Linked DNA regions of Homo sapiens. The protein of the gene in region 1 purifies or fractionates together with the protein of each later gene. This does not show direct contact. Each region holds a gene or a part of one and is shown in the gene's direction. Other genes may lie near its edges.

The links.
Region 2: the proteins of AGPS (region 1) and OGDH fractionate together in Homo sapiens (co-fractionation; one large-scale study listed by BioGRID). This does not show direct contact.
Region 3: the proteins of AGPS (region 1) and PRDX3 fractionate together in Homo sapiens (co-fractionation; one large-scale study listed by BioGRID). This does not show direct contact.
Region 4: the proteins of AGPS (region 1) and SCCPDH fractionate together in Homo sapiens (co-fractionation; one large-scale study listed by BioGRID). This does not show direct contact.
Region 5: the proteins of AGPS (region 1) and TOMM6 fractionate together in Homo sapiens (co-fractionation; one large-scale study listed by BioGRID). This does not show direct contact.
Region 6: the proteins of AGPS (region 1) and EMC8 fractionate together in Homo sapiens (co-fractionation; one large-scale study listed by BioGRID). This does not show direct contact.
Region 7: the proteins of AGPS (region 1) and POR fractionate together in Homo sapiens (co-fractionation; one large-scale study listed by BioGRID). This does not show direct contact.

Annotation. Positions count from the first base shown.
Region 1 is NC_000002.12:177,395,277-177,399,469, forward strand, and holds part of AGPS (alkyldihydroxyacetonephosphate synthase, peroxisomal precursor), read left to right. Parts: intron 1-297; exon of another isoform or gene 298-402; intron 403-4,193. UniProt on the Homo sapiens protein: Catalyzes the exchange of the acyl chain in acyl-dihydroxyacetonephosphate (acyl-DHAP) for a long chain fatty alcohol, yielding the first ether linked intermediate, i.e. alkyl-dihydroxyacetonephosphate (alkyl-DHAP), in the pathway of ether lipid biosynthesis.
Region 2 is NC_000007.14:44,671,934-44,676,126, forward strand, and holds part of OGDH (2-oxoglutarate dehydrogenase complex component E1 isoform 1 precursor), read left to right. Parts: intron 1-1,853; coding exon 1,854-2,008; intron 2,009-2,477; coding exon 2,478-2,624; intron 2,625-3,244; coding exon 3,245-3,335; intron 3,336-4,036; coding exon 4,037-4,193. UniProt on the Homo sapiens protein: 2-oxoglutarate dehydrogenase (E1o) component of the 2-oxoglutarate dehydrogenase complex (OGDHC). Participates in the first step, rate limiting for the overall conversion of 2-oxoglutarate to succinyl-CoA and CO(2) catalyzed by the whole OGDHC.
Region 3 is NC_000010.11:119,168,454-119,172,646, reverse strand, and holds part of PRDX3 (thioredoxin-dependent peroxide reductase, mitochondrial isoform a precursor), read left to right. Parts: intron 1-161; coding exon 162-265; intron 266-3,304; coding exon 3,305-3,470; intron 3,471-4,113; coding exon 4,114-4,167; 3' UTR 4,168-4,193. UniProt on the Homo sapiens protein: Thiol-specific peroxidase that catalyzes the reduction of hydrogen peroxide and organic hydroperoxides to water and alcohols, respectively. Plays a role in cell protection against oxidative stress by detoxifying peroxides.
Region 4 is NC_000001.11:246,730,221-246,734,413, forward strand, and holds part of SCCPDH (saccharopine dehydrogenase-like oxidoreductase), read left to right. Parts: intron 1-4,193.
Region 5 is NC_000006.12:41,785,724-41,790,395, forward strand, and holds TOMM6 (mitochondrial import receptor subunit TOM6 homolog), read left to right. Parts: upstream 1-1,970; 5' UTR 1,971-1,974; coding exon 1,975-2,102; intron 2,103-3,508; coding exon 3,509-3,605; 3' UTR 3,606-3,613; intron 3,614-3,807; exon of another isoform or gene 3,808-3,844; 3' UTR 3,845-4,172; downstream 4,173-4,672. Other genes in the region: PRICKLE4 (prickle-like protein 4), read left to right, coding at 405-609, 1,039-1,406.
Region 6 is NC_000016.10:85,789,545-85,793,044, reverse strand, and holds part of EMC8 (ER membrane protein complex subunit 8), read left to right. Parts: intron 1-111; exon of another isoform or gene 112-748; coding exon of another isoform or gene 749-823; intron 824-3,500. UniProt on the Homo sapiens protein: Part of the endoplasmic reticulum membrane protein complex (EMC) that enables the energy-independent insertion into endoplasmic reticulum membranes of newly synthesized membrane proteins.
Region 7 is NC_000007.14:75,980,703-75,984,495, forward strand, and holds part of POR (NADPH--cytochrome P450 reductase), read left to right. Parts: intron 1-345; coding exon 346-470; intron 471-814; coding exon 815-904; intron 905-1,521; coding exon 1,522-1,620; intron 1,621-2,817; coding exon 2,818-2,934; intron 2,935-3,035; coding exon 3,036-3,154; intron 3,155-3,793. UniProt on the Homo sapiens protein: This enzyme is required for electron transfer from NADP to cytochrome P450 in microsomes. It can also provide electron transfer to heme oxygenase and cytochrome B5.

The DNA of each region.
Region 1 (4,193 bases):
GATGATGGTTGAAGGTGACTGGTCAGGGATGCCCTGTGTGGCTGCTCCAAGGACTGAAGGCATCGATAGTTCAGGCACGACTGTAACCCATTTGTTGCATAGGTTACAGCTGGTGGGAAGCCCTGGTCTTTGGTTCGGGGTTAGACGACTAGTGGTAAAATCTAGTCCTGTACTGGTACTTTGAGATTTTCATCAAAATATGAGGGAACACAGAAACTTGTATTAGATGACACATCAAAAGCTTCCACAGAGGGTGATATACTTGATAGATAATCATGAGGAACCCAAGTCTCCCTTCTACTTCCTACTTAGCTGGGCCTGCAGTTGCCAGCTACAGAATCCAGCCTAAAGGGAAGATAAATGATAGAGGAAGAAGGAACCACAGTATATATCTAATAAGGTGTGAGTATGCCTATATGTCAATTATTTTGGAATAATTTTGTGATTTGTGTATTATTCCTTCCCTTTTATTACTTTGGATGATAACATTGCTTGTAATTGTTTTATCACATGGTTGTTTTATCACATGGTTGGTTATATCACATGGCCTGGAGTAGTGACTTCTTGAAATGCCATATTTTCATTCCTGTTACAGAATAGTCATGCATATGTTTCAACATTTATAGAGTAGTTGCTTTATGAAGGTCCTGTCCTAGGCATTGGAGGTAAAGAGATGAATAAGTAGTCTTCAGCCTCAAAGAGTTCACAATCTAGGAAGTGAGAGACACAGTGCAGTTTGATTAGAGCCACTGTAGATACAGGTACAAATGTAGCACAAAGGAAAGACTGACTTACTCTATATGGGGGTGGGAGGGTGGGGGTGGTCAGAGGAAGCTTTCTGGAGAAGATTTTAAAATGTGGATGGTATTTTGAGAGTTTATATTCCAGGCAAAGGGAACAGCATATGACAAAGCAAGGGGCCATGAAAGTGCATATCGTATTTACATAACTAGGTGATTTAGTATTGGTAGAGGTGAGAATAAAATGAAAGGAGGGCAGTGGCAGGTCATGGAGGTCTTTGGCTTGTGGGTTATCAGTCCATTCGTTCATGCATTCATTCATGCTTATAAAATATAGCAGTGAACAAAAACTCTGCCCTATGGAACTTATATTCTAGCTGGAGTGGAGACAGTGAACAAACAACTAATATAGTATGTCAGGTAGTGATAAATATAAAGAAAAATGAAGCAGCTGAAGGGGCTTGGTGATAGAGAACCCTTGAAGGAATTAAGCTGGGAAGAGACATGATCAGATTGGGTTTGGGTTTGAGAGAAGTCACTCCAGCTACAGTGTTAAGAATGGATTGGAGAACGGTAAGGATGGACATAGATCAGTTAGAGGAGATCAGTTAGAGGAGGCTGTTGTAACACAATAGGCGAGAAATAATGAAGAATTAAACTAAGATGATGGCAATGAGAATAGGGAGGAAATGATGTGTGTGAGAGTTTTAGAAGTTCATTAGGTGACACCATTAAAGTTTAATCACACTTTAAAACTATGTAACTAAATTAATGCCACAGGAGTTTGGAGACTGAATGACAATAGAAAAGGGATGACACAGTCCAGAGGAATGTGGACATTTCAGAGGGCTGACCAAACAAAACCTGCTGTTTACTTATCACATGGTCTCCTATGAAGTTGGCACCAATTACTTCTTTTTCTTTTCTTTTTTTTTTTTTTGCTATGGAGTCTTGCTCTGTCTCCCAGGCTAGAGTGAAGTGGCGCGATCTCAGCTCACTGCAACTTCCTGCCTCCCGGGTTCAAGCGATTCTCCTGCCTCAGCCTCCGGAGTAGCTGGGATTACAGAGCCTGCCACTGTGCCCAGCTAAGTTTTGTATTTTTAGTAGAGATGGGGTTTCACCATCTTGGCCAGGCTGGTCTCGAACCCCTGACCTAGTGATCCACCCACCTCAGACTCTCAAAGTGCTAGGATTACAGGCATGAGCCACCACGTCTGGCCGGCTCCAATTACTTCTATCCCGGAACATATGTTCTCATTATTTGAAGTTGCTGAGCAGAGTATTGAAGTGACAGTTTACTCTTGGATCCTCCCTTTTTCCTTAAGTGCATGTTACCCATGTACAGTTTTTCTTTTGACTTTGCTTCTAAGTGCAATTTTAGATCCTTAAAAATCATAGTAAATGTCAATTACATATGTGACACTTTTACGTCTTGGTTTTGGATTTTTTTCAGTTTTTTTTTTTTTTAAGGCTCTTGTGGTCTTACGAAAAAGAGAAGAAAAAATACCATGTTAACTTTCATTCTTCCACACTGCTAACCTCTTTCCCAGTTATAACTTTGGCTCCAACCTCATTGTGGTTTGCATTAGTCAGAACTGCTCAATGGCAGTTTTTACGGAGGTTATAAATGTTCAGGTCAAAAGAATGATTAAGAACGCCACTAATTGTTTAGTCTACTTGCTTATAATGTCACTTACAAATGCCATTTTAATAAAAAGCAGTATATTAACGTCGGGCATGGTGACTCACACCCCATAATCCCAGCACTTTGGGAGGCCAAGGCAGGCAAATCACTTGAGCCCAGGAATTCAAGACCAGCCTGGGTAAGATGGTGAGACCCCATCTCTACAAAAATACAAAGAAAGTTAGCCTGGTGTGGTGGCACAGGCCTGTGGTTTCAGCTACTGGGGAGGCTGAGGCGGGAGGATTGCTTTGAGCCTGGGAGGCAGAGGTTGCAGTGAGCTGAGATTGCGTCATTGTACTCCAGGCTGGACGACAGGGCGAGACTGTGTCTCAAAAAACAAAACAAAACAAAAAAGTATTATTTAACATCTGCCGGAAGCTTTGGTAGATATTTTCCAGAAGGAATACAGCTGAGTTAACCTCTTGTAAATATTTCCCAAGAGGGTATCCTGAAGCCTGTAAGAGCTGATACAGAGCAAAGGTTATTTGCACAAGTGACCTGGCTTAAAACTTAACATCGTTTGGCAAAATTCGAGCTTATTTTGGTAGTTATGTTGAATGAAATATTTACCCTATTTTGAGTTCCTAGCTAGGAATTCTAGTGATAGTAGTAATAGGAGTTTTAATTGACTAAGTCCTAATATGACAGGAACCATGCTAAAGCTTATGTACATTATGTCATTTAAATCTCACACAACAGCTCTGAAAAATGAGTGATACTATATGTACATTACAGTTGAGGAACTAGAGGCTTAGAGAAGTTAATTTATCTAAGGCCTTGCATTTGTGAAATGAAAGAGATGGCATTTCAACTCTGTTCTTGCTCCAGAGTCCATATTCTTTCCTCTATGCTGGATTACCACATCTGATGTTCCCGGGGAGATATCTACTTACTATTCATCAAGTTGCTGTCTTTGTCATGCTAAGTTTCAAAGTTTTTGTGATTAAATAGATCATGATCAAATACTTTGTCATATAGTTAAGAAGGCATTAGTTTATGTTGTACTTAATAAATTATAAAACATCATTCTGTCAAAATGAAATTCATAATAAGAAAATGTAATGGGTGGTTTAAAAAGGTAGACCAGCCAGTTTACTTTTGTGAGTGCATTTTGCCATTTGACTTGTGGAAGAAGACAGTGTTTGGAATGAAAGGGAATTAGGAAGAATGTGGAAGACCCAAGATCAGAGAAGAAAGGAGGAAAAGAGAATAGGTCATGGAGGGTTTACTGCCTAGTTGCAAACTGTCTTTGGACTGTGAATGAACAGGAAACTGAAGATTTAATCGCTGTGGTTATTTGTTAATATGCTTCTCTAGATTGCATTTTAAGATGGACCAGACCTTCTCTACATAGACTTTTTTATGTTGGGAAGTTACTATAGAGCCATCTACCCTTGTGGTCATTTAATAAAAATACCTGAGAATGAATTAAGTGATCTGTTTTTAGGCTGCAGAGAAATGGATTGCTGTTGTAGTCAGATGAGATACTTTATGGAACACTTTAAAAGCAAGTGCTAAGCAAATATTACTCCGTTTGATTTTATTTCCTTATTATTGAGAAGATAACTTCTGCTGTTATTCCGATTAGTATGTTAATTTCAACCCTAAACCAAATCAAGGGATCATGACTAGAGTCTACCGTTGTAGCATAAAGTATTAATAGCTCTCTGCCTATTAGTGTTCTCTTTATTTGTTGGGTCTTGGGGGTGATATTTTGTCATATCCTTGTCCCAACATCTGGGCTCAGAATCAACTGAGAGATAAGACAC
Region 2 (4,193 bases), on another chromosome or scaffold:
TGGCGGGCGCCTGTAGTCCCAGCTACTTGGGAGGCTGAGGCAGGAGAATGGTGTGAACCCAGGAGGCAGAGCTTGCAGTGAGCCGAGATTGTGCCACTGCACTCCAGCCTGGGTGACAGAGCAAGACTCCATCTCAAAAATAAATAAATTAATTAATTAATTAAAAAAAAAACCTTAAATACTAGGGTCTTTCCCAGCAGCACTTTCTCTTTTAGTTCCTAGGCAAGATTTTTCTTCTGTTGACTTGGATAATAACTAGAGTATTGTGGTTGGCCATAATTTTGAGTTTAGGCAAAGTTTGCTTTGTTTCATGGTCACGGAGCTTGTGTACAGGGATAGCCCACCCTCCTCTGCAAAGAACAGGGCTGGTCTCAGATTCAGCACATCCTTTAACTGCTCATGCCAGCTGGTCTCATTGTCTGTTGTGAAAACCAAGTGGGGTCATGGATGAGAGCTGCTGAGCAGGACCTAACACTCTAAGTACTCTGGCAGCAGTGGCTGCTGTAAAGGCAGTTAGAGGAGGCTTTGGGGGTCTGTAAAGTGTCTGTTGGCCCACATTAGGGCCTATCTTCTTTTTATTCCATGCTGACTTGCAGTTTGCTCTCAGACTCTCATTCTGGTCCTCCAGGGCAGCTGTGCAGGTCGAGTTTTGGGCCTCTGCAGGAGTACCAGGATGAGGGCAGCCCGAGAGGGATTTCTTTTTGTTTTTTGTTTTTTTTTTTTTTTTGAGATGGAGTCTCACTCTATCGCCCAGGCTGGAGTGCAGTGGCATGATCTTGGCTCACTGCAACCTCCGCCTCCTGGGTTCAAGCGATTCTCCTGCGTCAGCCTCCTGAGTGGCTGGGATAACAGGCACATGCCACCATACCTGGCTAATTTTTGTATTTTTAGTAGAGACGGGGTTTCACCATATTGGTCAGGCTGGTCTCAAACTCCTGACCTTGTGATCTGCCTGCCTCAGCCTCCCAAAGTGCTGGGATTACAGGCGTGAGCCACCGCGCCTGGCCCCGAGATGGACTTCTAAGAGCCTGGTGCCTCCTCTCGCTCCTGGCACCTCTCCTCTTCCTGAATTCCTCCCTGCCGAGCTCTGCAGATCTGGATGCTGCTTCCTCACCCAGCTGTGCAGTGTGAACGTGGTACAGGACATCTTGATCTGCTCAGGATCCTGACTTTTGTCTTATGGGCAATCTTGCTTCCTGAGGCAGAAGGATCATTTGAGCCCAGGAGTTCAAGACCAGCCTGGGTAACATAGTGAGACCTCATCTCTCCAAAAAATTCAAAACATGAGGCAAGAAGATCACTTGAGCTCAAGAGGTTGAGGCTGCAACGGGCTCTGATAGCGCTACTGCACTCCCGCCTCGATGACAGAGACCCTGCCTCAAAAAAATAAATAAATAAATAAATAATTTTTAAAACCTGCAAATCTTTAACAGCCATTGAGCCTATGACACCCTATGGGCATTTCCTGTCATGGGTGCTGGTACAGGTCTGACCTTGATGACAGCCTGTCTTCCCTGGGGAAGGACCCAGTTCCACAACTGTTGCGGTCTGTGCTTCTTGCCACAAAGGTAACAGAGTAGAACTGGGGTTGTCCCTTGGCCTGCCCTTGGAAGGCTAGGAGGTTCTCTGTGTACAAGTGACCCAGGTCCCTGAAGGAAGCACTTCATGACCCTATGAAGAGGGCTTCTGCCTGGCACCCACTCCATCCCATCCTCAGTCACACTTGATTGGAGTACATTTCAGAACAAGCCTCCTGCTTATCCCCTCCTTCTGGCTGAATGGGCAGTCGGCAGTCTTCATTCAGCCAGGCCTGGTTAGAAATCCCCTTGACTGTGTGTTTCTGTATGGAATAGATGGCCTACTGCCAGCATATTGGGGTGGAGTTCATGTTCATCAATGACCTGGAGCAGTGCCAGTGGATCCGGCAGAAGTTTGAGACCCCTGGGATCATGCAGTTCACAAATGAGGAGAAACGGACCCTGCTGGCCAGGCTTGTGCGGTCCACCAGGTATGGGTCTGGCCCTGGGCCATGGGGCAGACATTCCCAGGGAAGCAGTGACCCTGTCTGTGTTGATCGGGCCTGTGTGCAGCCTGTTGGCCGAGGTGAGAGGGGGTTTGGGGTGGTACAGGCAAAGCTCCATCTGCACATGTGTGAAGAGACACCAGACAAGTAGAGTCAGCCTTCAGAGCAACCTCCGCCTCCTGAATTCAAGTGATTCTCTTGCCTCAGCCTCCTGAGTAGCAGGGATTACAGAGGCACACCACCACGGCTGGCTAATTTTTATATTTTTAGTAGAGATGAGGTTTCACCGTGTTGGCCAGGCTGGTCTCGAACTCCTGACCTCAGCTGATCTGCCCACCTCGGCCTCCCAAGGTGCTGGGATTACAGGTGTGAGCCTCCATGCCTGGCCAGAATCCCCTCTTTTTGGTCAGGAAGAGTGACATTGCCCTTCAAGGTGGCTTGGTTCCCTGTCCAGGTTTGAGGAGTTCCTACAGCGGAAGTGGTCCTCTGAGAAGCGCTTTGGTCTAGAAGGCTGCGAGGTACTGATCCCTGCCCTCAAGACCATCATTGACAAGTCTAGTGAGAATGGCGTGGACTACGTGATCATGGGCATGCCACACAGGTACAGCCAAGGGCGCGCCCAACCTGGTTTCTCACCATCCCTGTGGGCTGTGTAGGAGGCACCAGGTAAAGGCACTGAGAGAGCAGCTGTTTCCTCCTTGAGTGCCAGTTGTGAGTCTGGGCTCATCTGGTACCTGAGGGTGTATTGCTTTGCAGGGGATTCTCACATTGCCTGCCTCTGGAGGACTGCAAAGTCATGGTCACCTCCAAAGCCACATGTAGTTTCAGACTGGCATTTGGCCTTACAGTGCATCTTTATGAAAATTAAACCCAAGTTCCCTTGTTGGGGTCTAACCTGGAGGGAAGGCTGCTTCCTGACATTGAAGGGGAGGCCAAGACTGTGAAAATAGGGAAGGTGTGGGGAGGGAGAAGGGTAAGGAAGCCTCAGGCCCATGGCATTGCTGCATCTTCTATCTTTCTGCTGCCCACTGTGGCCTTGATTGCCCAGCACGGAGAGGCTCGGTTCCCACATTAGCTCCAGTTTACAGCTATCCTTGGGCTGCAAACCGAGGAGGTGCCGTGTCCTGGGGGGAGGGGGAGGGGGGGATTGTAACACCCTCATCTGCCATCTGGAAACCATGACCTCAGGCTCTGCTCACCCTACTCGCCCATACGTTCCAGAGGGCGGCTGAACGTGCTTGCAAATGTCATCAGGAAGGAGCTGGAACAGATCTTCTGTCAATTCGATTCAAAGCTGGAGGCAGCTGATGAGGTGAGGCACCTGCATAGAGACACATCCAGCATAGCCCCAACTTACACAAGACCCCTGGCTCCACTTCTTTCTTAGAATGACTTACGGGGGGTTGGTTCTTCTGTACCATTTGTGATTTGCCTTCCTTGTTGGGAGAATTTTAGTGTTGGGACAAAGGTGGCCAGTGGCCCACCTCCTGGTCAGAGGTCCAGCAGCCCCACTCTGAGTGCAGGGGTGTGTCCCCTCTGGCTGAGGGACGTTCTCCTTATGCCCTGGATGGGAATGATCCTGGGAAAAGGCCTCCATATCCTTCTGCGTTGGGTTCCTGGGAGTAGAAATCCCATATAAGGCTGGGCATGGTGGCTCACATCCGTAACCCCAACACTTTGGGAGGCTGAGGCAGGCGGATCACGTGAGGTCGAGAGTTTGAGACCAGCCTGACCAACATGGAGAAACCCCATCTCTACTAAAAATACAAAATTAGCCGGGCGTGGTGGCGCATGCCTGTAATCCCAGCTACTCGGGAGGCTGAGGCAGGAGAATCGCTTGAACCCAGAAAGTGGAGGTTGCAGTGAGCCGAGATCGCGCCATTGCACTCCAACCTGGGCAACAAGAGCGAAACTCCATCTCAAAAAAAAAAAAAAAATTCCCGTATAAAAGGGCTCTTTTGGAGACTGAGCATCTCCTTGGCCAGGGTGCAAATTCACTGTTTACCCCATCAGGGCTCCGGAGATGTGAAGTACCACCTGGGCATGTATCACCGCAGGATCAATCGTGTCACCGACAGGAACATTACCTTGTCCTTGGTGGCCAACCCTTCCCACCTTGAGGCCGCTGACCCCGTGGTGATGGGCAAGACCAAAGCCGAACAGTTTTACT
Region 3 (4,193 bases), on another chromosome or scaffold:
TGGTTTCGAGGAGGCAGTAGGTTAATAGAGTAAGCAGTGCTTGGCCCGTTGTTGAATTACTGTTACCTATCGCCGTTACTGTTGGTCTCAAACATTGTGGTACGTGGTCAAGAATGTTGTGAGGCCACACATTCTAACAGTCATGTTTGCATTTTGATTAGAATGGTGGTTTGGGCCACATGAACATCGCACTCTTGTCAGACTTAACTAAGCAGATTTCCCGAGACTACGGTGTGCTGTTAGAAGGTTCTGGTCTTGCACTAAGGTAAGATCCTGTTTCTGATGAACTTAAGATTATTTTTCATGTTTAGTATCATTCTGCTTCTTAGGGGATTTATGTAGACCTTGGTAAAGCATTTTTAAAACCAGAAGATCCTGGCTGGGCATGGTGGCTCATGCCTGTAATCGTAGCACTTTGGGAGGCCAAGGCGGGAAGATCACTTGAGTTCAGAAGTTCAAGACCAGCCTGGGCAACATAGTGAGACCTCATCCCTATTATATTAAAAAGAATTAAAATTTATAATAATCAATCCTTAATTTTAGTCTTTAATAAACACTGATGAAATGCCTCCTGCAAGGGTTGGCGGTCTCTCAGAAATGCTGAGACATGCATGTCCCCTCCACCACCTTGGGTCTCTTTCTGAAGAAGGCTGGCTGCGTCTTGAGGCCACACTGCTCCATACTCCCTAACTATGTGGGAGCCACTTCCATGGGGACACACACCTGACATTGAAGCCATCAGACTCTGCAGAAGGGGGGACTAGCAGGGTAAGAGGTAGTCTCTTGGAATGGTGACCATCTTCAGCCCTGGAACCAAACAATCCTTGGTTTGAGTTTTTCTTTTTTTTAACTCAGCTACTTAATAGCTGTGTGACTTTGGGCAACTGATTTGATTTAACCTTGTTGAGCCCCAGTTTTCCCATAACTAAAATGAGGTGGTACGTCACAGGTGGGTGTGAGGATTAAATAGTGACACAGCTAGAGTTTTTAGCATAGTTACTGGCAGCAGTTGTTAGGATTTCTGCCCCAGAACATCATTTCTATCTGTATTCAGTCCCTTATTAAACCTTTATTCCTTTGAGTGTGAAAAGCTTTCAGTCCTCAGCAGCCCCACATTCAAACATAACCTTCCTGGGAGGGATGAGAACTTGGGTCTTAGAATTGGCATCTTGAAGTCTGCTGAGAATAGGAGTGAAGGAGGGATAGGGCAGAACTTGACCTCCAGGAAGGAAGAGAGGGGATCCCCCTTTGATGTGCTGTGCCTCACAGTTTTGCTGGGGGCTGGTCAGCTTAAAGCCAGCTCACCTGGCCGGGCGCGGTGGCTCAGGCCTGTAATGCCAGCACTTTGGGAGGCCGAGGCAGGTGGATCACGAGGTCAAGAGATCGAGACCATCCTGGTCAACATGGTGAAACCCCGTCTCTACTAAAAATACAAAAAATTAGCTGGGCGTGGTGGTGGGCGCCTGTAGTCCCAGCTACTCGGGAGGCTGAGGCAGGAGAATGGCGTGAACCTGGGAGGTGGAGCTTGCAGTGAGCTGAGATCGCACCACTGCACTCCAGCCTGGGCGACAGAGCAAGACTCTGTCTCAAAAGCAAACAAACAAACAAACAAACAAAGCCAGCTCACCTGCCTGTCTTGTAGGTGACCTCTGGCCTGCTCTTTCTTGGGTTACACCTTGGGTTTTAGCGCTGAGTGGCATCTTAGAGTTTGGGCCTTTTTTTCCTCTCTTTTTTTTTTTTTCTTTTCTTTTCGAGACGGTGTCTTGCTTTATCGCCCAGGCTGGAGTGCAGTGGCGTGATCTCGGCTCACTGCAACCTCCACCTCCCGGGTTCAAGCAGTTCTCCTGCCTCAGCCTCCCGAGTAGCTGGGATTACAGGCACACGCCACCACGCCCGGCCAATTTTTGTATTCTTAGTAGAGATGGGGTTTCATCGTGTTGGCCAGGCTGGTCTCAAAACTCTTGACTTCGTGATCTGCCTGCCTCGGCCTCTCAAAAGTGCTGGGATTACAGGCATGAGCCACCGCACCTGGCAGACCATTTTTTTTTTTTTAAACTTTAAAGAGATTATCAAACGAATGCCTAGGTCTTTCAGAATTGTCAATGGCCAGAGAAAGGGTACTGGCTATTTTTCTCCTACGGTCCCTTTCCCTATGAGAACTCACTAATTTTGCAGTTACCTCTGTACCCGTTTTAATATTGAGATTAACAAGAGAGAGAAGCTGAGTCTGGCTTATAAGATAAAGACTTTTGGGAGTCTATGGGCCCTGCTCTGTCCCAGCTCTGCCTCACCTTCTATTGGTGGACTTCAGCTGGCTGCACCCTCTGGGAACAGTTTCACCTCAAACCCCAGGCTCCCAGTGCCTGACCCAGGGAGGGAGAAGCATCTTTTATCCTGAGTTTTCTCTAACCTGCCTTTTCCATGAGTGATTGATACCTGAAATTTCCACATCCTTTTAAGACAGACTGTTAAAACCTGTAGGTTAAATAACCGGACACAGTGACACACACCTATAGTCACGCTACTTGGGAGTCTGAGGTGGGAGGATCAGTTGAGCCAGAAGTTCGAGGCTGCAGCCTGCTGTGATCACACCTGAGAAGAGCACTGCACTCCAGCGTGGGCAATACAGTGAGACCCTATATTTAAACCAAACAACCAAAAAAACTTCTAGGCTAAACATATCTGCATCTGTCACAGTAACACCAACACAGAAGATAAACACAGACCACTGTGGTAGCGTGGTTCATCTCATTACATGCTGCTACATGATTAAAAGTGATGGGCATGGTTTTCTGTTTTGCATAGACTTAGAGCCTGTACATTCTTTCTATGAAGATTTTTCCCGTGGGATTTCCCCCCATTTACCCAATAATTCATTCATAATAAACAGTTGTTGAACCTAGATAAAATACACCTCTGTCTCTTCCCATTTGCCTATAAGTTTCTTGCCAAGATGTGATACAGCAGCTCAAAGAATGCTTGCCAAGTCACTAATAGTCTTTGCTCTCTCTAGTTCAGTGACTTTCCGATACTGTGTAACATTCAGGGCACTATGTGAACTTGTAAGTGTGACCATACTGCATGTTTTATGGTGACCTGGTCCAGTACTGCCTTTGTTAAAGCATCTGTCATCAGTAAGAGATGATAAGTTTTTTGCACAACAGTGAAAACCCCACCTTTAAGCATATGATTACGCTTAATAAATATTTTATTAAAAGGAGAATTAAAGACCTAAAAGGGAAGAAGTTAGACTGTTCTAGTTCTGGTACTGTTGAGGCACTGATGAGGATAAATGATCATGCAGAGGTCTCTTCATAATTGACCCCAATGGAGTCATCAAGCATTTGAGCGTCAACGATCTCCCAGTGGGCCGAAGCGTGGAAGAAACCCTCCGCTTGGTGAAGGCGTTCCAGTATGTAGAAACACATGGAGAAGTCTGCCCAGCGAACTGGACACCGGATTCTCCTACGGTAGGTTTTTTTCCCCAAAAGCAGTGAGGTCCATGTTCTCTCAGCCTCGAGAGCTATTGACCTGAAATATCCACAAAAGGGAGCCCACTCTTGAAGCAAGCGTGCAGATGATATGCAAATGGGTGAAGCTGCTGTGGGGTAGAGGGGGTGGGGTGGGGAGCCAGGAACCAATTATCAGAGACAGGCAGGCCTTTTTTTTTTTTTTTGAGACGGAGTCTTGCTCTCGCCCAGGCTGGAGTGCAGTGGCGCTCTCTCAGCTCACTGCAAGCTCCGCCTCCTGGGTTCACGCCATTGTCCTGCCTCAGCCTCCTGAGTAGCTGGGACTACAGGGCGCCCACCACCACGGCTAATTTTTTGAATTTTAGTAGAGACGGGGTTTCACCGTGTTAGCCAGGATGGTCTGGATCTCCTGACCTCGTGATCCACCCGCCTTGGCCTCCCAAAGTGCTGGGATTACCGGCGTGAGCCACCGTGCCCGGCCTAGAGACAGGCAGGCCTTAATGAAACTTTCATCTTTATGTTTTAAAGGAAATCTTTAAAAGTTTAAAGAACTTTAGGTTAAAAATTGGGAGATTGCCACTCACTTTTGGGACTATTATTATGGTAAAGTCACAGTTACCTAATTAAGCTTTTGTATTTTCAGATCAAGCCAAGTCCAGCTGCTTCCAAAGAGTACTTTCAGAAGGTAAATCAGTAGATCACCCATGTGTATCTGCACCTTCT
Region 4 (4,193 bases), on another chromosome or scaffold:
GCTAAAGTCCCACCCTGTCAAATCCAGTCTTCATCTGAAAGCTTGCAGCATTCGATCCAGCTGACCACTTTCTCCTTTCTTTGCTCAGCTTCTACGTTGTCATCTTCTCGTAGTTTTCCTCCTGTCCACCAGCTTCACCCTGGAAGTCCTCGTCTCCTCCACTGCGTCTTTGTCCTCCCCACTCTAAATGCTTGAGGCCTCAGCGTTTAAGCTTTAGAACCTCAATAACCTCATTCAGGCATTAGGTTGCAGTAAAGTGAAAACGACTGAATGAATGAAGAGTGGTGCTGAGGCCCTCTCTGTGTGATGGAAACTTTCCCACAACCCCATCAGGATACCTGCTGTGTCCTGTCTTCAACACATGACCACTTAACATGGCCCAGGGAATGTCTCGTAGTCAGTCCATATAGTAACCGTTAACGGAACGTCATGTTTTTGTAAACATTAACATGGATAAAAGTTCTGATATTTACTTCCACCCTCAGTGGATCATTCTGCGCTTCCCTTAGGGGAAGACTACTTGGGAGACCACTGGGTTAGAAGATGGAACTTTGAGGGCCAGGCGCGGTGGGTCATGCCTGGAATCCCAAACCTCTGGGAGGCTGAGGTGGGCAGATCACTTGAGGTCGGGAGTTTGAGACCAGCCTGGCCAACATGGTGAAACCCTGTCTCTACTAAAAATACAAAAAATTAGCTGGGCATGGTGGTACACACTTGTAATTGCAGCTACTCGGGAGGCTGACGCAAGAGAATCACTTGAATCCGGGAGGCGGAGGTTACAGTGAGCTGAGATTGCGCCATTGTATTCAAGCCTGGGCAGCAAGAATGAAACTCCAGCTCAAAAAGAAAAAAGAAGAAGATGAGACATGGAGAGCAGGATTGCGGTTCTGACCTTTGAGCCAATTGGCCTCACAGGGGAGAAGTGTCTCCCCGAGATGAAGGATTGCTACTCTGACTGTTCACCTGTCTCAGACAAGCACAGGGTACTAAGTGGAGAAAAATCTAGCAAGTTCATAAAATAGGAATAAGTTAGTGAGAAGTCTCAACTCCAGATTACTCAAAGAAGTGGGCCAGATGTGACAAAATGCAGTAAAAGTAAGGAATGGGCAGACTGGCAAATAGGAAAATGCGTTTTCTTTCCAGAAGGAGCTACGATTATTTTAATAAGCTCATTAATACTTCACTGCAGCCTGCCAGTACTCATAGATACACTGCCTAGCTGATGGGCTCACTAGCCAGACATGAGAAGTGAGCCTGTGGCTGTAAGGCAGAGCCTGGAGGAGCTGGGAGTTGGCCCAGCAGAATGAAGGGAGGGTGCTCCAGGTAGTGGAAGCAAGCACACTGGGTGTGAAGAAGCAGCATGCTTGGGGAATTACATGGAATTTAGAACTGCTGGAACATGAGAATTAAGGGGCTGTGGTATGATATGATACTAAGGACTTTCTGTGACATGCTAAGAAATTTGGACTTTGTACTATATACTGTAGGGATTTTTTTGTTTTTGTTATTTTTATTTAAGTTCTAGGGTACATGTGCACAACATGCAGGCTCGTTACATAGGTATACATGTGCCATGCTGGCCTGCTGCACCCATCAACCCGTCATTTACATTAGGTATTTCTCTCAATGCTATCCCTACCCCTGCCCCCCACCCCACGACAGGCCCCAGTGTATGATGTTCCCCACCCTGTGTCCAAGTGTTCTCATTGTTCAGTTCCCACCTGTGAGTGAGATCATGCGGTATTTGGTTTTCTGTCCTTGTGATAGTTTGCTCAGAATGATGGTTTCCAGCTTCATCCATGTCCCTGCAAAGGACATGAACTCATCCTTTTTTATGCCTGTATAGTATTCCATGGTGTATATGTGCCACGTTTTCTTAATCCAGTCTATCAGATTTGAAGAGTGGATATGTTATAGGAGTGAGGCAGGAGGAAAGGTGACATCACATTTTTATTTTAGAATAACAATTTGTTATGTATTTGGAGATGGGGCTAGCTGGCTGCAGTATAACCAGTTAGGGCCTATTTATAGTAAATTAGATGAGTGTTGACAGGGTCTGAACTAAGATATAATTGTGCAGGGGAGAGGAGACTGATTTGAGATAATTTTAGGAAACTGAATTGATAAAACTTGGTGACTTCCAGGATAGGTAGCATGAAAGACTGCTTCCAGATTTTTTTTTTTTTGAGGCGGTTCTTGCTCTGTCACCCAGGCGGAAATGCAGTGGTGCGATCTAGGCTCACTGCAACCTCCACCTCCCGGGTTCAAGCAATTCTCCTGTCTCAGCCTCCTGAGTAGCTGGAACTACAGGCTCATGCCGCCACACCTAGCTAATTTTTATATTTTTAGTCGAGACAGGGTTTTACCAAATTGGTCAGGCTAGTCTTGAACTCCTGACCTCAGGTGATCCACCTGCCTCGGCCTCCCAAAGTGCTGGGATTACAGGCATGAGCCACCACACCCAGCCTGCTTCCAGGTTTTAACCTGAGAATTATGTGGGGAGTAATGCCATTAAATAAAAAAAAGAAGCCATCTGAGTACCATGTGCCTGGCCCCACACTAAGCTCTTTGTATTCTCTTATTTCATCCTCACAACTACCCAGGGAAGTGAGTGTTGTTATTCATCACCATTCTTTGATTGAAGAGGTTGATGCTTAGAGAGGTAAAGTGACTTGCCCAGGGTCACACAGCTAGTGGCTGCAGAGCCTGGATGTAAGTGTGGCCTGACTTAAAGCCCACACTCTAGACCACTCTGCTGTTCAGCCATTTGCTCAGTTTTGTCTCAGAGTCTTCCCTCTTTTGAGCACAACAGAAAGATGTTAGAAGTGGGACCCAGGCAGGCTGAACTAGAGGCTATACTTTGTTTTTTATTTTTATTTTTTTGAGATGGGGGTCTCACTTTGTTGCCCAGGCTGGAGTAGAGTGGCACGAACACAGCTCACTGCTGCCTCAACCTCCTGGGCTCAAGGGATCTTCCAGCCTCAGCCCTGAAAGTAGCTGGGACTATAGACTGGTGCTATCACATCTGGCTAATTTTTGTATTTTTTGTAGAGACAGGGTTTTGCCCTGTTGCCCAGGCTGGTCTCTAGCTCTTGAGCTCAAGTGATTCACTCACCTTGGCCTCCCAAAGTGTTGGGATTACAGACGTGAGCCACTGTGCCTGGCCATGTGTTTATATATATATGCCATATATATATAGTCCTTATATGTATAATATATATATATAATAAGTATATGGCCTCTATATATAGTCCGTAGCATCATATTTTATACACACACACACACACACACACTTTTTTTCTTAGAGAAATGGGGTCTCAAAGCGATCCTTCTGCCTCAGCCTCCCAAAGTGCTGAGATTACAGGTTTGAGCCACCACACCTGGCCTAGAGGCTACACATTGAAGCACGTGCTAGGAAGTGGAGGAGGAGAAATAGGTTTAGAGAGAGAGATGATGAATTCGGTTTTAGACTTGTTGAAATTGAGGTGTCTGCTAGATACCTTGCATCAAGACAGAAAATACAAATAATATACTGTTTGTATATGATGTTTTATAAGTAAGTGAGAAAATCAGGGGGAAGAGAAAATAAAAGGAAAATGTAGGCAAAGTGAAATTAGTTTTATGTGTGACTCATGCTACATGTCCTGTGCTCTCACTGGTCCTGACCTTTCTAACAAAAAACAGAGGGAAATCCTATCAGTGAGCAACTCTAGACATAGAGGTTGGAGGTCACAGCACAGATTTTATTGAAGTTGGGAGAGTAGGTGAGATTTCCTGGGAGAATGTCTGGGGCAGTGATTCTCCATCTTTGAAGTACACAAGAATCACCTGTGAGGCTTATTTACAATGCAAGTTACTGGAGTCTACCTCAGAAAGCCTGATTCTGGGGGTCTGGAGTGGGAGTGAGTGACCAGCATGCAACCCAGGTGATTCTAAAGCAGGTGGACTCATGGCCAACTTGAGAAATTTGGGGGTGAAATAACTTAAGAACAAGGCCGAGAAAGCTCCAAATGAGTTTTAAAATGGATGTGTGCAAACCCTAAGGATCAACCAGGATAATCCACTGGGTGCAGAAAGCATATGGAGCTTCAACTTCTGTTTTAATCTCAACTTTAGTTCTATTTAAATATGTTTAAAATGTGTGTTTTATTCATTTGGTAGGCAATTTAAGTGATTTATAAGTAAATTCATAT
Region 5 (4,672 bases), on another chromosome or scaffold:
CTTCTCTCTGGCCTCCCCCACTGCAGAGTCCCTCAAATGTTCCTGGACTCATCGAATTTCTCTAGAGCAGGGAGTCTTGGACACATGCTCATCTCAGTAGATGCCGAGTGCCCAGTGCTGTGCCTCATCATGCTAGAAATTCCCTTGATGTCAGCATAAAAGGAAGCCTGGAGCCCTGGGTTGGGAGTCCAGACCCCCAGGTCGCACTGGGGATTGTCCCACTTGCTAGCTGGGATCCTGGCTAAGCCAATCAGTCCTCCCTGCGTCCAAAAGTGGCTGAGTGAATTAAATGGGAATGTGTGCAGACGTGCTTTAGCGTTAACTGGGTAAAAGGCGTGGTTACTGGATGAATGAATGAGGGAATGAATGAATGAAACGTTCCCCTCTCCCTCTCCCTCTCCCAGCTGATCTTCTCCTGGCGCTGCACCGAGGCGGAGGGACAGCGCTGGCATGAGAACCACTTCTGTTGCCAGGACTGCGCCGGGCCTCTGGGCGGGGGACGTTATGCCCTGCCTGGGGGAAGCCCCTGCTGCCCCAGCTGCTTCGAGAACCGCTACTCGGATGCAGGCTCGAGCTGGGCCGGGGCACTGGAAGGGCAGGCATTCCTTGGTAAGGGAGAGGATGCAGAGCAAAGCGGGAGGGAGCTTGGGCTGGGCTGTGGGGGTTCTCCCGGGCTGGGACCCTCGCCCCGGTCCCACGCCGTCCCGTCCCTCCAGGAGCGCCCCCACCGCACCCCCCAGACCCAAGCCTCGGGGCCCGCAGCTCTCACCGCGCATCCCTGGCCGGAGCGTTCCAAGGGCCGCCCGAACCCACCCCGCGCCGCGGTCGGGGTTGCGGCGCCAGACTCCCTCCCAGGCGCGGGAGGCGGACGCCCTCTGGTGGAGGCGGGGGACCCTGGCGAGGACTCTCGGCGGCGGCGGCGGCGCGCACGGCCCAGGGGCTGGGCGGGGCGGGAGGCTGGGCCTCACCCCCACTAGCTGCGGTGTAGGTCCAGCTCCGCGGCTCTGAGACCAGCGTTTCCGACCCGGCCCGGAACAGGGGAGACTGGACTCGACCGAACTGAAGGAAGGGACCAAACCTCGGTGAACTCTGCAACCCTCTCCCGAACACTCCTCGCTGCTGCCGGCGGTTCCAGCCTGCAAACTCAGAGGGGGCTGCCTGGATCCAGTCCCCAGCAGGAGAACCGACCTGGGGACAAAGCGGAGGCACCCAAAGGGCAGGAGCAATGCCGCCTGGAGACTATTCGTGATCCCAAGGACACCCCTTTCTCCACCTGCTCCTCCTCCTCTGACTCGGAACCTGAAGGATTTTTCTTAGGCGAGCGCCTTCCCCAGTCCTGGAAGACCCCCGGAAGCCTCCAAGCAGAGGACAGCAACGCCTCTAAGACGCACTGCACCATGTGCTAGTGGCGCAGCTCAGAGAGGGGATGTGAGTGGGAGGAAAGGGGTCTGTAAAGCGGGAGAACAAGGCTAGCCTCCCCCTAACAATCCTAGACTGAGACGCAGTCAGGCGCACGCCCGCAAGAGGCGGCGAGGTGACAAGTTTGGAGTGCGCCCCCTTCAGTACTGCGCGTTCTAAGACTTTTGGCGGAGACTTTCTTGGCAAAACCCATTCCCCAAAGCTACGCTTCCCCTGCTGAGATAGCCCCTACCCCCACCTCCACAGGCTGGGACAGCCCCGTCCCCACCATCCTCCTCCCAAGCCAATTAAATGATCACAGCACGCGTGACAGTTACCGGCTGGAGAGCCGGAGGTGGGACCGGGAGCAGGGGACCGTAGAACCGGGCCGCGCTCCTCCCCTCCTAGAGTTCGTGGAGGCGCAGCAGAGGGCCGTCCCTCTTCCGGATGTCGGACTAAGCGAACAGCGCCCCCACTGCCGGCCGGTAGCAGCCGGAAGTGCCAGACCGGAGGTGCGTCATTCACCGGCGACGCCGATACGGTTCCTCCACCGAGGCCCATGCGAAGCTTTCCACTATGGCTTCCAGCACTGTCCCGGTGAGCGCTGCTGGCTCGGCTAATGAAACTCCCGAAATACCGGACAACGTGGGAGATTGGCTTCGGGGCGTCTACCGCTTTGCCACTGATAGGAATGACTTCCGGAGGTAACCGAGCCCGAGGAACTTGGTCCTTTTCTGGCCCTTAAATCCGTATTTCCCCTTTCTTGCGAGGCTGGCGCCTCAGGGTTTTTTGTTTTTGTTTTTTAACATTACCAGCATTGTGGCGTCTTCGTAGCTCTGGCTGTGCCTCACTGAGATCCCTGGCCAGGAGAGTTCCCGTGTGGCAAAAGCGATCTTTCTGTCATGTGGCTGTATCTGTAATGTCACCCTGATCAAGGGAAGAAGTGCTAGCACGTAAACAGGCTTTTTCGGCCCTGGACTAGTGCTTTAGCTGGGCTTTGCGTTTGATCTTACATTTCTTTTTTGTTTTTTTTTTTTTTTTGAGACGGAGTCTCACTCTGTTGCCCAGGCTGGAGTGCAGTGGCGCGATCTCGGCTCACTGCAAGCTCCGCCTCCCGGGTTCACGCCATTCTCCTGCCTCAGCCTCCCGAGTAGCTGGGACTACGGCCGCCCGCCACCACGCCCTGCTAATTTTTTGTATTTTTAGTAGAGACGGGGTTTCACCGTGTTATCCAGGATGGTCTCGATCTCCTGACCTCGTGATCCGCCCGCCTCGGCCTCCCAAAGTGCTGGGATTACAGGCGTGAGCCACCACGCCCGGCCTTTTTTTTTTTTTTTTTTTTTTTTTTTGAGACGGAGTCTCACTCTGTCGCCCAGGCTGGAGTGCAGAGGCGCAATCTCGGCTCACTGCCCCTTCTGCCTCCCGGGTTCAAGCGATTCTCCTGCCTCAGCCTCCCCAGTAGCTGGGATTACAAGCGCGCGCCACCACGCCCAGCTAATTTTTGTATTTTTAGTAGAGACGGGGTTTCACCATCTTGGGCAGGCTGGTCTCAAACTCCTGACTTCTCGATCCACCCGACTCTGCCTCCCAAAGTGCTGGGATTACAGGCGTGAGCCACCGCGCCCGGCCACATTTATTTCTTTTTGAGACAGCCTCGCTCTGTCGCCCAGGCTGGAGTGTAGTGGCGGACCTCAGCTCACTGCAGCCTCCGCCTCCCGGGTTCAAGCGATTTTCCTGCCTCAGCCTCCCCAGTAGCTGGGATTACAGGCGCGCACCACCACGCCCAGCTAATTTTTGTATTTTTAGTAGAGACGGGGTTTCACCATGTTGGCCAGGCTGGTCTCGAGCTCCTGACTTCGTGATCCGCCTGCCTTGGCCTTCCAAAGTGCTGGGATTACAGGCGTGAACCACCGCGCCCAGCCTGACCTTACACTTACTAGGCACAAAAATGAACTCCAAATTCCCACGTGGGTCTTGAGCAACCTGCCGTCACAACCACGTATCAACGCCTCGGGAAGGTGGTGATGGAAGCCTTTCCCCCCAGTACATTTCGTTAACTGTACAACTGACTCAGTGACCACAGGGTTAATAAAACACATTGTTTTTCCAGGAACTTGATACTAAATTTGGGACTCTTTGCTGCGGGAGTTTGGCTGGCCAGGAACTTGAGTGACATTGACCTCATGGCACCTCAGCCAGGGGTGTAGCCAAGTAGGTAAGCACTGAACTACACCCATGCGTGTCTTAGGAGACCTAGAGACTGGGTGAAGCAATGTTTTCTGTCAAGTATTCATGAAATGTACAAAAGAATGTGATGTAAAACCCTTAACTATTCCTAGTTAAATGTGTTTTCAGATGTTGAAAGGGATTTAAGTATCTCTTACCAGTTTCCCTCCCATACTTTTACAGTTCTAATGCCACCTGTCGTCTTATCATCTGATTGCAGACAAATGGAATCCTGTGCTGAACCCGAATCTTCCAAAAAACAGCCTACAATCTGTGACCACCACAAGATGTGCCCTGATGGCAGCTGAAGTTTGATTCAGATGGGCACTTTTCTTCCCCTTCCCTGCCTAGTTTCCTTTTGTTCCTTGAGTCCACGCAGAATTCCATTCTCTGGTCAGCAGACAGGCTTAAGCTAAAGTATTGCCTCTATTCTGTAAAGTTCTGTACATAGTTCCCAAGCTTCTGCAGGGGGTGATTTTTGCTCTTGTCCTGAGAAATAACAGTGCTGTTTTAAAAAACATTTGAAATAAATACCGCACACAAAGGCAGTCATTTTATTCTTTTAATAAGAAACTTTTGCTTACAAAAACAAGGTGTAAAAAGATTTACAAAAATCATAAAAACATGATTTATATTTCACACTTGAGAGACAAAAACAAGCCCCAAAACATGGATTTTAATGGAGGTGGTTTGCTTCATTTTAAAAGGGAAAAAAAAAAAAGGAAGCTGTAACCATACATTGATGTTAACCTAGCATGAAGTTTATTCTTGAAGAATTTACATTGTTGAGCAATATTAGGGGAAGAAGCCATTTGGTGTTGCATAGCATTTTAGTGCACCAGATGGGTTTTCCAGACACCAGGGAGGCATCATTGCTGGAATAGTGAGGTTTGGTGGCAGAAAGAGGGCAGTGATGTGTAGGGGGAGGCAAAGTGAAGTAAGCCTGGGCAGTGGTCACTAAAGTGACACTGCTGAGGCAGCTGCTTCCTTCAGAAGGAAATGTTTTGTGACCCTAAAATTCATGGTAGTGCTACTGTCCAGGGTTTGG
Region 6 (3,500 bases), on another chromosome or scaffold:
GTGAAAATGTCCTTTCTCTCTAAAAAGTAAATGAAATTGCATGAGTAAGTGCAGAATGCGGAAGGTGTCTATATCAGAGTCAGTTTGACTACATTGACAACAGTCTCCACAGAGTTTTCTCCTGACCTTTTATTTTCATCTTGATTTTTCACAAGATGCACATCAGGGTGTGGGGTGTCGTACAGCGAAGCAGGGACATGGAAATGGATTCATTGGGAACAGAGGTTGAGTGGCTTCTCGGCTGTGCCTTGTCTTGCCTCGCTTCGGAGGAAGCTAGTTGCCTTGACTCCTAGCTGCCACTTAGATCCACCGCAGCTTTTCATGCAGGAGCCATTTGGGCTGAGGGCAGGATCCTGCAGCCACTGGAGACCTGGCTGCCACACCCACACCTACACCACCAGCAAGCCCCATCCTCTTCCCCCAGCCCACTCCACTCCAGGGCACTCTCACCTGATGCCTAGTTCCAGATTCCGGACTGTCACAGGAAACTACCCTTATTAGAACTCATCCACCCTGCCGCTGTGAGTGCTGAGGCTTGGCCGAGTCTCCGTTCCTCCCTTCGAGTTCTCCATTCCTCAGTTGGTGAACGGGCTGTGTGCACCCCTCATAGCCATCCATACAGCTAACTTGGTTATTCTCATGTGTGTCATTCAAAAGTTCTAAATTCTAAAGCCAGGCCAGAGCTTTTGTGACCTGGTTCGCTTTAAGGGCAACCTCTTCAAAGAGGTTCTACTTAAAGTTCCAGGTCATGACATTTTTCTGCTGGAATTTGGTTGGGCCCTTGGAGTTTTCTTACAGGAATTTGTCCCTCAGCAGGCAAAATGTAAGTTGAGATATACATGTGTTTGTCATAGGAATCATCTTTTGTACCAGGTGGTTTCTGTGCTCTGAGAGTGGGTACAAGGTGATACCATATGTGTTTACTGGGCTATGAGTCCTAACCAGGTGGCTTCAGCCCAGGAAAGAGATGGAGTAGCCAACTGAGACTGCTGCTGGGGGTCTTCAGGAAGTTGCCTGTAGCTAAGTAAAAAATATGTCCTATGGTTTTTCCTAGAAAATGTTGTATGGTATGGTCAGCTGAGTAATAACCCCCCAAATATGTCCACATCCTAATCCCCAGGCCTTATGTAGCAAAAGGGATTTGTAGATGTGATTAAGTTAAGGGCTTGAGGGTGGAGAGAATATCCTGGATTACCTGGGTGTGCCTCATGTAATCACAAAGACCTTTGTAAAGGGGAGGCAGGAAGGTCAGAGTGAGAGGAAGAGATGGATGATGGAAGCAGAGGTCAGAGTGATGTGGCCATGAGCCAAGGAATGCGGGCAGCCTCTAGGTGCTGGAAAAGGCAAGGAAAAGGATTCTCCTCTAGAGCATCCTGAAGAAGCACAGCTCTGCTGACCCATTATAGACTTCTGACCAGTAAGATAAAAAATTTTGGCTGGCATCATCCTCAGCAAACTAACACAGCAACAGAAAACCAAACACCGCATGTTGTCATAAGTGGGAGTTGAATAGTGAGAACACATGGACACAGGGAGGGGAACATCACACACCAGCGCCTGTCAGAGCCGGGGAGCGAGGGGAGGGAGAGCATCAGGACAAATAGCTAATGCATGCGGGGCTTAAAACCTAGGTGACGGGTTGGTAGGTGCAGCAAACCAGCATGACACATGGATACCTATGTAACAAACCTGCATATTCTGCACATGTATCCCAGAACTTAAATAAAAATTAAAAAATAAAACATGCACTTTAATCAAGTACGGTTTATTTCAGAAATGGAAGAAATTAGGGAATTTGAAGTTAGAAAATCCAAAAAATGTATGCATTAAAAATTCTAAGAAAAACAATCATATGATAATCTCTATGGATGGTGAAAAATCCTTCAATAAAATTTATTTCTTGCCTTAAAAAAAAAAAATTGGGCATGGTGGCTTGTGCCTGTAATCTCAGCACTTTGGGAGGCCAAGGCAGGAGGATTGCTTGAACCCAGGAGTCCAAGATCAGCCTGGGCAACATGATGAAACCTTTGTCTCTACAAAAAATTTAAAAATTAGCCAGACAGGATGGCGCACACCTGTAGTCCCAGCTACTCAGGAGGCTGAGGTGGGAGGATCACTTGAGCCCAGGAGTTCAAGGCTGCAGTGAACTGTGATCTCACCACTGCTCTCCAGCCCGGACAACGGAGCGAGACTCTCAAAAAAAAAAAGTGTTGTTTTAAGCCACTAAGTATGTGTAACTTGTCACAAGGGCAATAGGAAACTAAGACAGTGGCCAATCTGACTGTGAAAATAAGGGCAGGCTACACTGGAGAGCAGGGATAGGGACACCCGGGGGGCAGAGATGTGGGTCACCTTAGGGGAGGACACACTCAGGAGGCCGGCCCATGATGGCACATGAAGGCTGGGAGCACGGTGCTCAAGGATCAGCTCATCAGGGAACTTGACCAAATTTAGAGCAAGCCCCTTTGATAGTGTATAGAGATGTTTGTTCTAAGCAGCAATAGAAAGCTTCTGGAATCTGTTCCATTAAGAGGTGATAGAAACAAAATATGAGTCGTTTTGGAGTTGTTTTCAGCAAAGTCACAATGATAGCACCATTATAGATATTTTACAGACATAATCCTGATCTTTTGGGTGGATGACCAGAATGTCTAGTTGGTTCACTGAGCCCTGGTTTTGACCCAATATGGTAATTCGTGAACTCTTAGGAGGCCAGAAATATCCTAATCCTGTGCAAGGCAGGGACCCTTGGACTGTAACTGTCTTGTCTGCTTTTGGTCGTGAAGGAGACTCAGAGGCCCAAACAAGAATTTAGGAAAAAGAGCAATAGGATTGTGTTTAAAAAACACACACATCCATTTTTAACCAGTTTATTCCCTACAAAAAAAAAAAAATCAAGGTACCAATTTTGTTTCCTCTTGTGCAGACTGAGAATAGACTTTATTACAGTGTATTCAAATTCCATTATGCCAAAACAGGATGAGCTTTTGTTGTTTTGAATAATGGCCTTAGACCTGCAGGAAGCTGCATCTGGTGAGAAACATGGTACCATAAAAGAAACCCAAAAACTTCAAAGGTCTGCCACCTTGCTTCCATTTCAAAGCACGCCGGAGAGAACTAAGGACATGTGCACGTGCCCCTTCCTAACTTGGGACCTCTTTACCCTACACCCCAACTGAGGGGTATTTCATGATGCGGTGCTTAGAATGCTGAGATGGAGTATAAAAGACTTTTTTTTTTTTTTTTGAGACGGAGACGGAGTTTCACTCTTGTCACCCAGGCTGGAGTGCAGTGGCATGATCTTGGCTCACTGCAACCTCCCCCTCTGGGGTTCAAGTGATTCTCCTGCCTCAGCCTCCCGAGTAGCTGGGATGACAAGCGCCCACCACCACGCCCAGCTAATTTTTGTATTTTTAGTAGAGATGGGGTTTCTCCACATTGGCCAGGCTTGTCTCGAACTCTTGACCTCAGGTGATCCGCCCACCTCAGCCTCCCAAAGT
Region 7 (3,793 bases), on another chromosome or scaffold:
TTGGGTGCTGGAGACTAAAGGCAAGAAAGGTCTGGCTGGACGACTGAGACCTGCCTGGCCTCGGAGAGCTGGAGCCCCAGCCCGGTGGGGAGGGTGGGCTGGCCCCGCTTCCCTGTGGGTTGAGGCTGGCAGTGGACGGGGCAGGCTGTGGGCTGCAGGTCAACCAGATGAAGCCTCTTCAGTGGCCCAGTGTTCCTTGCAGTGCGAGGCGCCTGGTGGAACGGAGGCCTGCAGGTGTTGCCAGCAGCTCAGCCAGTGCTGTGGGGCCTCCCGCCCTGCCCCCATGGCCCCTCCCACTGGTCAGGTCGAGGGCCAGGCCTCAGAGCGGCCCCTGTGTCCACGCAGGTGTTTGGTCTTGGGAACAAGACCTACGAGCACTTCAATGCCATGGGCAAGTACGTGGACAAGCGGCTGGAGCAGCTCGGCGCCCAGCGCATCTTTGAGCTGGGGTTGGGCGACGACGATGGGAAGTGAGTGCCCACCCTGCCACCATGATCAGCGCGGCGGGCTTAGGCAGGGGCCGTGGAACGTGAGGGGCGCGCACACCATTGTGTCAGCTGAGACTCAGCGACACGCACCTCCAACACAGAGGGAAGGGGCTCTCCTGCCTCTGCCCTGCCCCTGCCAGTTTTGCTTTTCGGCTTGCCCAACTCCCTGGAGCCTTCCTGATGCTCTGGGTTTATGTCGCTGGGTGCCCCAGGGTGCACAGTCCTGAGCTTTGGGGATGGGGTGGGGTCGGGGCGTGCCTGGCACCAGGTACCGTTGCCACATGGGCCTCCCCTGAGCCGCTCCCCCTCTCCTCTCCTCGGCCCAGCTTGGAGGAGGACTTCATCACCTGGCGAGAGCAGTTCTGGCCGGCCGTGTGTGAACACTTTGGGGTGGAAGCCACTGGCGAGGAGTCCAGGTGAGCAAGTGCCCGCAGGTGCGGTGGGTGGCCTGGGCGGGTCCTGTGCCGAGGGCAGCCACCCTGGAACAAGGGCTGGCAGTGGGTCGCAGCAAGGTTAGAAGACACTCCGTCATAGGGTCGAGGAGGGACCTTGGTCCCAGCCAAGGACTCACTCTGCCACGTTGCTCTGCACTGCCCTGGGGCAGCGGGGTGCATCCCACCTCTCGACAAGGACACATCGCGTCGGGCTCTGTGGCTAGGTTCAACTTTGGCAAAAGGGCTCATTTCCTTAAAATCTGCCTCCACAGACTTGGCCAAAAACATAACGTTCCTCTCTGTGCCCTTGATGGCCCCTGGGTGCTGCCCGGGCTTCCTTACCTTCTCCCAGATGGAAGCCTGCCCAGCCCTGCCCCGGCTTCTGGGCGTCTGGCCCCCGGCAGCTCCACGCCGCCTCCCTCCTTGCTCCCTCGCCTGCCCTCCTTGTGCATCTGCAGCAGGGGCTCCCCTGCTTCTTGTCGTATGTACCTGGGACCTCACCCCAAAGGCCATGCACGGTCTCCCCTGTAGTCCAACCCCTCCCTCTCGGGACTGACCCCTGCCGCTTCCCGGCCTCACCCTTGGTCTCCCCTTTCCAGCATTCGCCAGTACGAGCTTGTGGTCCACACCGACATAGATGCGGCCAAGGTGTACATGGGGGAGATGGGCCGGCTGAAGAGCTACGAGAACCAGAAGCCGTGAGTGGAGGGAGCGTGGCTTGGGGCAGACGGCTCTATGGCCACTGGTGCACCCCAGGCTCAGTCTGCCGTGTATCCCCATATCCCCACAGGGCCCTTCTCACCAGACCCCGTGCCCCGAGTGGGTGTGAGTGTCCACGACCTGTCCACGGCCCGGCCCCAGGAGACTGGCACTCGCCCAGTTTGTACTGAGCTCACTTAGCCACCTTACTCTGCACTGCCCAGGGCAGCGGGGCACATCCCACTTCTCGACTAGGACAGTGCATTGGCCTCTGTGGCTAGGATCCTCTTTGGCAGAAGGGCTCATTTTCTTAGAATCTATCTCCATAGATAGACTTGGGGGAGAAACCTGGCGTTCCTCTCTGTGCCCTTGATGGCCCCTGGTTGCTGCCCAGATTCCTGCCCGAGCCACCCAGGGAAGTCCTCGTGCCACTGCATCCAAGACCAGCTGCCCTGCTTTCTGTAGGCCTGCCCCAGCCTGGCTGGAGCGAGAAGCCCTGCATGTCGGTGGCTTTCCGGAGTGCAAGTTTCTCTCTTGTCCACGGTGTAGTCCAGGACGTGTGGGGGTGGGGGAGCTGTGCTCCTCATTTGGGGACCAGCCACCTTCCAGCCTGTGGCACCGTCAGCTTGGGCCTCACAGTTCTTTTAGGGGCCAGCCTCAGTTTCCACATCTGTAAACAGACACTGATGACCCAGCTCTGCCCATGTGGTGGGACTATAGAGAGAACTGCATTAGGGCTGGGCGAGGTGGCTCACAGCTCTAATCCCAGCACTCTGGGAGGCCGAGGTGGGTGAATCACCTGAGGTCAGGAGTTCAAGACCAGCCTGGCCAACATGGTGAAACCCCGTCTCTAGTAAAAATATAAAAGTTAACCAGGCATGGTGGCGAATGCCTGTAATTCCAGCTGCTCAGGAGGCTGAGGCAGGAGAATTGCTTGAACCTGGGAGGCAGAGGTTGCAGTGAGCCGAGATCGCGCCGCTGCACTCCAGCCTGGGTGGCAGAGCGAAACTCTGTCTCAAAAAAAAAAAAGAGAACTGCATTGGACCAGGCTGGGAGAGCCCTTGATGTAACCGGTGAGATTTCCTCATGGAGATCTCTGAGATTCCCTGTGCTTTGTGCAACCAGAAGCGTCCTTGGAGACGGAGACTCAGATCAAAGCCCCGGCCGCTCACTGTGCTTCTCTCCTCCCCACCCAGCCCCTTTGATGCCAAGAATCCGTTCCTGGCTGCAGTCACCACCAACCGGAAGCTGAACCAGGGAACCGAGCGCCACCTCATGCACCTGGAATTGGACATCTCGGACTCCAAAATCAGGTACCAGCTGCCACTGTCACCCCCTGAACCCTCACTCTGGGCCTCCTGACCTGGGGCAGGGCCAGCCTTCCGCCCCTCCCGAGCCTCACATCTCCCTCCAGGTATGAATCTGGGGACCACGTGGCTGTGTACCCAGCCAACGACTCTGCTCTCGTCAACCAGCTGGGCAAAATCCTGGGTGCCGACCTGGACGTCGTCATGTCCCTGAACAACCTGGATGGTGAGTGCCACAGTCAGGGCGCCCTGCCGGGCTCAGGCAGCCGCGGGATTGGGCCTGTAGGAAGGCCCTGGGTTGAGCTTCTGCTTAGGCCTGAAGCCCCGGTGCCTGGGAGGCCCTTGCACCGAGACTCCACGGTTACAGGATCCCAAGCAAACGGGAGGCGGGGTGGCCCTAGGGGTCTAGCCCTCTCTGTCGGGGTTCCCCCTACCCCGTCACTGTCATAGTCCTTTAAGGGAGTGAGGTGCTGAGGCCTGGTGGCAGAGGCAGCCCTGGCTCCCCCATGGCCACTGTGTCCTGCTGGGAAGGAGGGCCTGGCTCCACGACCCACCTCTGCCGGCCTGGGGCTGCCCCCACCTCCTCACTGAAGTCAGGAGTCAGCAGCCCTCCCAGGCCCCCAAGGGTGCACAGTGGTGCCGAGTGGCAGTAGCCATTACGCGGGGCTGCCTGGGCCTGGTGGGGCTGCCCAGCCTGAGCCTCCCGCTGTGAAGCCCTCGGACCCCACTGGTCACCAACCTGGGCCGAGCCCACCTCGCCCCACCCCTGCTTGCCGGTCCTCAGCTGCCATGCCAGGGCTGCCCTTACTGTCGGCTTCCACAGCCCGCCTGTAGGGAAGCCTGGGCGGGGCTGTGTCAGACCGTG